Homo sapiens: one gene and its partner. The protein of the gene in region 1 interacts with the protein of each later gene in a pairwise test. Each region holds a gene or a part of one and is shown on either strand. Other genes may lie near its edges.

What was found.
Region 2: the proteins of CLUAP1 (region 1) and CINP interact in binary tests that used the Homo sapiens proteins (3 or more experiments, as listed by UniProt).

What each region holds. Positions count from the first base shown.
Region 1 is NC_000016.10:3,499,312-3,503,225, forward strand, and holds the start of CLUAP1 (clusterin-associated protein 1), read left to right. Parts: upstream 1-1,692; 5' UTR 1,693-1,756; coding exon 1,757-1,778; exon of another isoform or gene 1,779-2,773; intron 2,774-3,914. UniProt on the Homo sapiens protein: Required for cilia biogenesis. Appears to function within the multiple intraflagellar transport complex B (IFT-B). Key regulator of hedgehog signaling.
Region 2 is NC_000014.9:102,352,616-102,356,429, forward strand, and holds part of CINP (cyclin-dependent kinase 2-interacting protein), read right to left. Parts: intron 3,283-3,814; coding exon 3,153-3,282; intron 1-3,152. UniProt on the Homo sapiens protein: Component of the DNA replication complex, which interacts with two kinases, CDK2 and CDC7, thereby providing a functional and physical link between CDK2 and CDC7 during firing of the origins of replication.

The DNA of each region.
Region 1 (3,914 bases):
TCCAGCCTGGGCAACAAGAGCAAGAGTCCATCTCAAAAAAAAAAGTTCAAGTTGATCAACATCCTTTCAAGCCCTTGGCATTGTCAAGAGTTTTTTGTTGTTTTAGCCATTTTATCTAGATTTAATTTTTAGGTTTTTAACGTGTTACCTGATATTTTAGCCAGTTTAATAACTTCATAGTGATATCTCATTGTGGTTTTAATATGCACTTCTCTAATAATAGCCTTGATCATCTCTTCATTTGCATATTAGCCATCCATATATCTTCTTTTGTGAAGTAGCTTTTAAAATGTTTTCTCCATTCTCTAATTAGACTGTTTCTCATTATTGAGTGTTGAGAGTTCTTGATACATTCTGGATACACGTCTCTTTATCAGATATGTGTTTTGTGCATATTTTCTTCTAGACTGTGGCTTATCTTTTGTTTTTCTTAATAACACGTGAAGCAACATTTATGGGAGGCCATTGTTTTGGAGCGAGCTCCTGCACAAGGTACCAACGGACCAGACCAAACCAGAATGGAATCGCTAGTGCAAGGTGCCACGTAATCAATGCGAACTTAGAGACAGGCCAGTCTGCCAAAACACAGAAGATTCACTGCAACCAACAAAAGGGGCCCTGTCCACCTAGGCTGGCATAAGGAAGCCCCCTCTGCTTTAACCCAAAGAAATGCATCTGAAATAACCTGATGCCAACCAATCGCTTTGTGCACTACGCTGTTTCCTTGTTCCTGCTCAAGCTACCTTACAAAACCCGGCTGCTGTGCCACGCCTGGCGGGGCATCTCCCCATTTCACACGTGGAGGCCGCCCCTTCCTGCCGTCTCCTCGCGCCCCCATGCAGAGGCTAGGGCTGCCGGGACCCGCGCGGCGCGAGCGGCTCAGGGCCCCTTTCCGGCCTGTTGTGCAGCCCGAGCCGTCTGCGCGTGCGCGAGACCGAGGCCTGGCCTGCCTCTGGGCGCCCACAGTGATCCCGTCCTCCGCTCGGCAACCAGATTCCGACGAGGAGCGCGCTGTGCCTCGGACGGGGGAAGGCGGGCTTCCTGAGTATAGTGCATTTTTTTTTTTTTTTTTTTTTTGAGACAGAGTCTCGCTCTGTCGCCAGGCCGAAGGGCAGTGGCGCGATCTCGGCTCACTGCAACCTCTGCCTGCCGGGTTCAAGTAATTCTTCTGCCTCAGCCTCCCGAGTAGCTGGGATTACAGGTGTGCGCCACCACGCTTGGCAAATTTTTGTATTTTTTGGTAGAGACGGGGTTTCGCCATGTTGGCCAGGCTGGTCTCGAACTCCTGACCTCAAGTGATCCGCCCGCCTCGGCATCCCAAAGTGCTGGGATTGTAGGCGTGAGCCCCCGCGCCCAGCCAAGCATCGTGCATTCTTTATAGAAATGAGGGGGAAATAAGCAATATGGAAAGCGCCTAGCGCAATATCAAGCACGTAGTAGGTACTCAGAACCTGTCACCCAGCGCGAAACGTCCGCAAAGCGTGTAAACAGACGCCCAGAAGCTGGGAAGCTTGCAGCCCTCATAGACGCCGGTATCGCCACGCCCTCTGCCCTCGGCGTCTCAGGAGCGCTCTCTGCCGGCCCGCTCTCCCCGTGCGTATGCACGTGCCGCCGCGTCTTCGCTTCGCTTTTTGTTTGTCCCTGACCGTGCGCCGTCCAAGGGTCCATTGGTTGCCATAGAGATCGTCGAGCGCTGGGCCTGTGATCGCTGAGGGGCGAGCAGTTGCGACCCTGGGCTCCTGGGGACCTGAGCGTTATGTCTTTCCGCGACCTCCGCAGTAAGGCAGCCCCGCGCCCCTGTGACCTGCGGGTCTTCCAGAGATTCAGGGCTCCCGCCCGCCGGGTCCCCTGTGTAGGCGATCCCTGAGGCTTGCGCTGCCGGAGGCTCCTTTCGGGCCTCTGCGCCTCAGGGACCGCCTGACCCGCGGCTGCAACCCGGCCGAGCGTCCCAGGCCCTTCTTCGGCCATTTCTAGCGAGGATGGAAAGTTCTCTATCTGCCACTGGCCGCGTGTGGCTCAGAACGCTTGAAATGTGGCTAGTGCAGATGAATAACTGAATTTTTAAGTGTAATTTATTTCTGTTTGTGTAGCTGCATGCCGCTCTTCGCTACCGTATTGGAAAATGCATGGAGAGTTTAGAGACTATTTTTTGAGTTGGGTTAGCTTAGCGCTTAGAAAACCGAACAGCAGGCCGGGCGCGGTGGCTCACGCCCGTAAGCCCAACACTTTGGGAGGCCGAGGCGGGCGAATCACCTGAGGTCGGGAGTTCGAGACCAGCCTGACCAACATGGAGAAACCCCGTCTCTACTAAAATTACAAAATTAGCCGGGGGTGGTGGCGGGCGCCTGTAATCCCAGCTACTCGGGAGTCTGAAGCAGGAGAATCGCTTTGGAGGTTGCGGTGAGCCGAGATCGGGCCATTGCACTCCAGCCTAGGCAACAAGAGCGAAACAACATCTCAAAAAACAAAAAACAAACCAAAAAAAAAACAACCAGCAACGAAACCGAGGAGAGGAGGCTGGGTGATAATCATTGCGGCTAACATTTTTTGAGTTTTAACGATCTGCCAGGGCCCGCTCTGTGTTATGCGCATTTCATTTTAATCATCTGAACAACTCTGTGCCCCCTGTATTTGGTAGTGAGGAAACGGGCACAGAGAGGTCAGGTAACTTGGGCAGGTGATACAGGCGGTAGGAGGTGGCACTGGGGCTTGAATTCAGGTTGCCTGAACTCCAGACATCCTGAACTCCATCTGCATCCTTTCTGCAGGGCTGGTAAGGAGAAGGGAGCTCGAATTCCTTTGCTAAGAGGGTGGGGAAGTGGAAGAACGAGGCTAAGAGTGTTGGTTACGGCTGGGCGCAGTGGGTCACGCCTGTAATCCCAGCCCTTTGGAAGACCGAGGCAGGCGGATCACTTAATTTCAGGAGTTCTAGACTAGCCTAGCTAACATGGCGAAACCCTGCCGCTGCTAAAAATTCAAAAAATTAGCCGGGCATGGTGGCGCGCGTCTGTAGTCCCAGGTACTTGGGAAGCTGAGGCAGGAGAATTGCTTGATTCCGGGAGGCAGAGGTTGCAGTGAGCCAAGATGGCACCACTGCGCTCCACCCTGGCCGACAGAGTGAGACTGTCTTTAAAAAAAAAAAAAAAAAAGGAAAGGTAGATGATGATTGCCAATTTGGTGTGATCCGAGGGGTCTCTTAAAGCCAGTTTTCTCGTCCAATTGTTGGTGCCTGAAATTTTAGCATTAGAGATTACTCCTTTTGGTTATGAATTGCTCTTTTCTACAATGTAAAAATATCTAGGAAGACGCATTACCTTTTATCCATGCAGCCACTGAGCACCAGAGTGTGAATCCTGCCCTCTGGGGTTTGAAGGTTTTTGGTGGCCACACATCATGCAGGATGACTGTCTCCTCCCACATAGTTTTTAGAGAGGCCAGCACCCTGCCGGGGGACGTAGAATGGGGTTTTGTTGGGGAGCGCACACACGGAGATTTCGGAATATTTTGATCTTAAATTAATGCTCTGCAGTTGTGCAGTGTATGGTAAGGATCTTACTCAAATTAGTGTCTATTTTGACAATAACACCGCAGCATTAACAGAACTTGACTAGTACCTAGTGGTCAGGAGTATTTAGGCAGTGCCTTACTGTGTGAAGGAAAGGCTGCTGCTTTCTTTTCTGTTCTTTTTTTGAGACAGTCTTGCTCTGTCTCCCAGGCTGGAGTGCAGTGGTGTGATCTTAGCTCACTGCAACCTCTGCCTCCCAGCAATTCTCCTGCCCCAGCCTCCCCAGTAACTGGAATTATAGGCGCCCGCCACCACACTCACCTAACTTTTGTATTTTTATTTTTATTTTATTCTTTTCTTTTTTTGAGATGGAGTCTCGCTCTGTCACCCAGGCTGGAGTGCAGTGACG
Region 2 (3,814 bases), on another chromosome or scaffold:
TTGAACATAGAATGAGAACTTATTCCCAAACCACTTTTCTTTTTCTTTTTTTCTTTTTTTTGACACGGAGTCTCACTCTGTGGCCCAGACTGGAGTGCAGTGGCTTGATCTCGGCTAACTGCAACCTCCGAAAGTGATTCTCCCGCCTCAGCCTCCCAAGTAGCTGGGATTGCAGGCACCTGCCACCACCCCCAGCTAATTTTTTGTATTTTTAGTAGAGATGGGGTTTCACTATGTTGGCCATGCTGGTCTCAAACTCTTGACCTCAGGTGATCCACCTGCCTCGGCCTCCTAGAGTGCTGGGATTACAGGCATGAGCCACTGCGCCTGGCCAAAACAAAAATTAAAAAAAAACAAATAAAAATACAACAATTAGCTGGGTGTGGTGGCAGGCACCTGTAATCCCAGCTACTTGGGAAGCTGAGACAGGAGAATCACTTGAACCCAGGAGGCAGAGGTTGCAGTGGGCAGAGATCACCCCACTGCACTCCAGCCTGGGCAACAAGAGTGAAACTCCATCTCAAAAAAAAAAAAAATTAACAAATGGGAGGGAGGGAACAAATCTCCCACGCAGAATAATTCCAAATAATTTATGTAGATACTGCACCCTCAAGCAGGTGGTGAATACGTCCCTACCCCCAGGTGTGGGCTATGCATAGTGACTTCCTGCCAAAGAGCACAGCGTGGGAGGAGGAGAAAGAGCAACGTCACAGCAGAGGAACCTGGAAACACTGCCCAGCCAGGTGATCAAGGTCAACTTCAGCAGTGGAAAGTCCTGGCTGTGCACAGTGGCTCACGCCTGGAATCCCAGCACTTTGGGAGGCTGAGGTGGGAGCACTGCTTGAGCCCAGGAGTTTGAGACCAGCCCGGGCAATAGGTGGGACCCAAAGAAAAGTCCTGATGACAGTATATCCAGTACGTGCCCTTGATATGACATGATAGAAATGGCACTTTACTTCTGTGGTCCTCCTCTGAACAAAACCCGTAACCTCAGTCTAATTAGGAGAAAAACATCAGATAAATCTCATGATGTTCTACAAAATACCTGACCAGTATCCCTCAACATTGTCAAAGTCATCAAAAACAGGGAAGTCTGAGAAACTGTCACGGCCAAAAGGAGCCTGAGGAAACAAGGGGACTCGATGTCATACAGGATCCTGAAGCCAAAACAAGACATGACGGAAAAGCTAAGGCAGGGCGCCAGGGCTCACACCTGTGATCCCAGCACTTTGGGAGGCCAAGGTGGGAAGATCACTTCATGTCAGGAGTTCGAGACCAGCCTGGCCAACATGAGAACCCCGTCTGTACAAACGAATTTTAAAAATTAGCCGGGCATGATGGTTCATGCTTGTAGTCCCAGCTACTCGGGAGGCTGAGGCAAGAAGATCACTTAAGCCCAGGAAGTAAAGGCTGCAGTGAGCTGTGATCATACTACTGCATTCCACAGCGAGACCTTGTCTCCAAACAAACAAAAAGGTGAAAATATAAAGATCTTAAATGTTTATGGGTAAGCTTCAGTTATCCAAGTTCAAATATGTGTAAAACCTGATTTCCTGTGCCTAGCAAAGAAATAAGGTGGTGTTATCTTCACATCTGGTGGCCAGTATGGTAGGTATTGAAATTTAGTTATTAGTTCATTAAACAAACACTTTAGTCTCTTACGTGCTGTATCAGGGATGGGCAAACTATCCCTGGAACACAGGTCAATTCTGGCCCATAGCCTATTTCTGTATGGCCCATAAGCTAAGATGGTTTTTACATTTTTAAATGGTTGAAAATAACCAAAAGGACAATAGTGATTGTGACTCATAAAAATTATACAAAATTCTAATTTCGGTGTCCAAAGATAAAGATTTCCTGGACGAACATGGTGGCTCACGCCTGTAATCCCAACACTTTGGGAGGCTGAGGTGGGTGGATCACTTGAGGCCAGGACTTCGAGACCAGCCTGGCCAACATGGTGAAACCCCATCTCTACTAAAAATACAACAATTAGCTGGGCATGGTGGCGCACACCTGCGATCCCAGCTATGTGGAAGGTTGAGGCACAAGAATTGCTTGAACCCAGGAGGCGGAGGTTGCAGTGAGCCAAGATCTCGCCACTGCACTCCATCCAGCCTCAGTGGCAGAGTGAGGCCCTGTCTCAAAAAAAACAAAAACAAAAACAAAAAAGGCCAGGTGCGGTGACTCACGCCTGTAATCCCAGCAGTTTGGGAGGCCAAGGCAGGCTGATCACTTGAGGTCAGGAGTTCGAGACCAGCCTGGTCAACATGGTGAAATGCTGTCTCTACTAAAAATACAAAAATTAGCTCATGTGGTGGCACGAGCCTGTAATCCCAGCTACCTGGGAGGCTAAGGCAGCAGAATCACTTGTACCTGGGAGGCGGAGTTTGCAGTGAGCCAAGATCATGCTACTGTACTCCACCCTGGGTATCAGAATGAGACTCCATCTCAAAAAAAAAAAAAAAGAAAATCCAAAAAACAAAGATAAAGTTTTCATGGAATGCAGCCACATCCATTTACGCATATATTATCTATGGCTGTTTAGTCCTATGTGGCAGAGATGAGTAGCTGAGATAGAGACTGGCTGGCCCTGGAAGCCTAAAATATTTACTCTGTGGCTGGGCGTGGTAGCTCATGCCTGTAATCCCAGCCCTTTGGGAGGCCAGCAGGTGGATCACCTGAGGTCAGGAGTTTGAGATCAGCCTGACCAATATGGTGAAACCCTGTCTCAACTAAAAATGCAAAAATTAGCCAGGCATGGTGGCGGACGCCTGTAGTCCCAGCTACTCTGGAGGCTGAGACAGGAGAATCGCTTGAGCCCAGGAGGCGGAGTTTGCGGTGAGCCAAGATCACGCCATTGCACTCCAGCCTGGGCGACAAAGCAAGACTCCATATCATGGAAAAAAAAAAAAAATTTACTATGTGATGAGCCCTGAAAGTGGGTGACATTTCCCCGGATGACGCACAGGAGGAGTGAGTGTCTAAGACAGCATCTTGGGGAACATTAAGGTTTACGCAGCAGGCAGAGGAAGAGAACATCAGAGGAGACTGAGAAGGAGTAAGTGATGGCCAATGGTCAAGCAAACCCCAAATACGTCCATCGGATTCAGTGACAGTGACCACAAGTGGCCTGCGTCTTTATGTCTTACCAACCCATCCAAGGTGGCCTGCAGTTCCTCACACAGCTTCTCCAGTTCCTCGTTATATTCCAGACACACCTTTTCTTCATTTTCCTTCGAGGCTGGGCTGCTGCTGTCTAGTTCTATCTTGTCTTTATTCCTAAACAAAATAGAAAATAATGTGTACAAAATATACTCTTTAAGCTTGCCTTATTTCCTTATAATAAATTCTACAAACCTCTATATCCACATAGTTACGTGGGACATTTTGCATAAGCATTGTTCTTTCATATCATTATGATACAAATGCAGTTATTATTTATATGTGCAATGAATATGTCCATTGGTCACTCAATTTTGCACCAAAATAAGTCAGTTAAATTCAGCCATGTGACAGCCGGTTTTGGTGGCTCATGCCTGTAATCCCAACACTTTGAGGGATGGACGCGGGAGGACTGCTTGAGTCCAGGAGTCTGAGTCCAGCCTGGGCAACACAGTGAGACCTCATCTCCACAAAAATTAAAAGTAAAAATTAGCTGGGCATGGTGGGACACGTATGTGGTCCCAGCTACTTAGGAGGCTCAGGTGGGAGGATCACTTAAGCCCAGGAAGTCAAGGCTGCAGTGAGCCATTATAGCACCACTGCACTCAGCCTGCACAAAAGAGCAAGACTGTCTCAAAAAAAAAAAAAA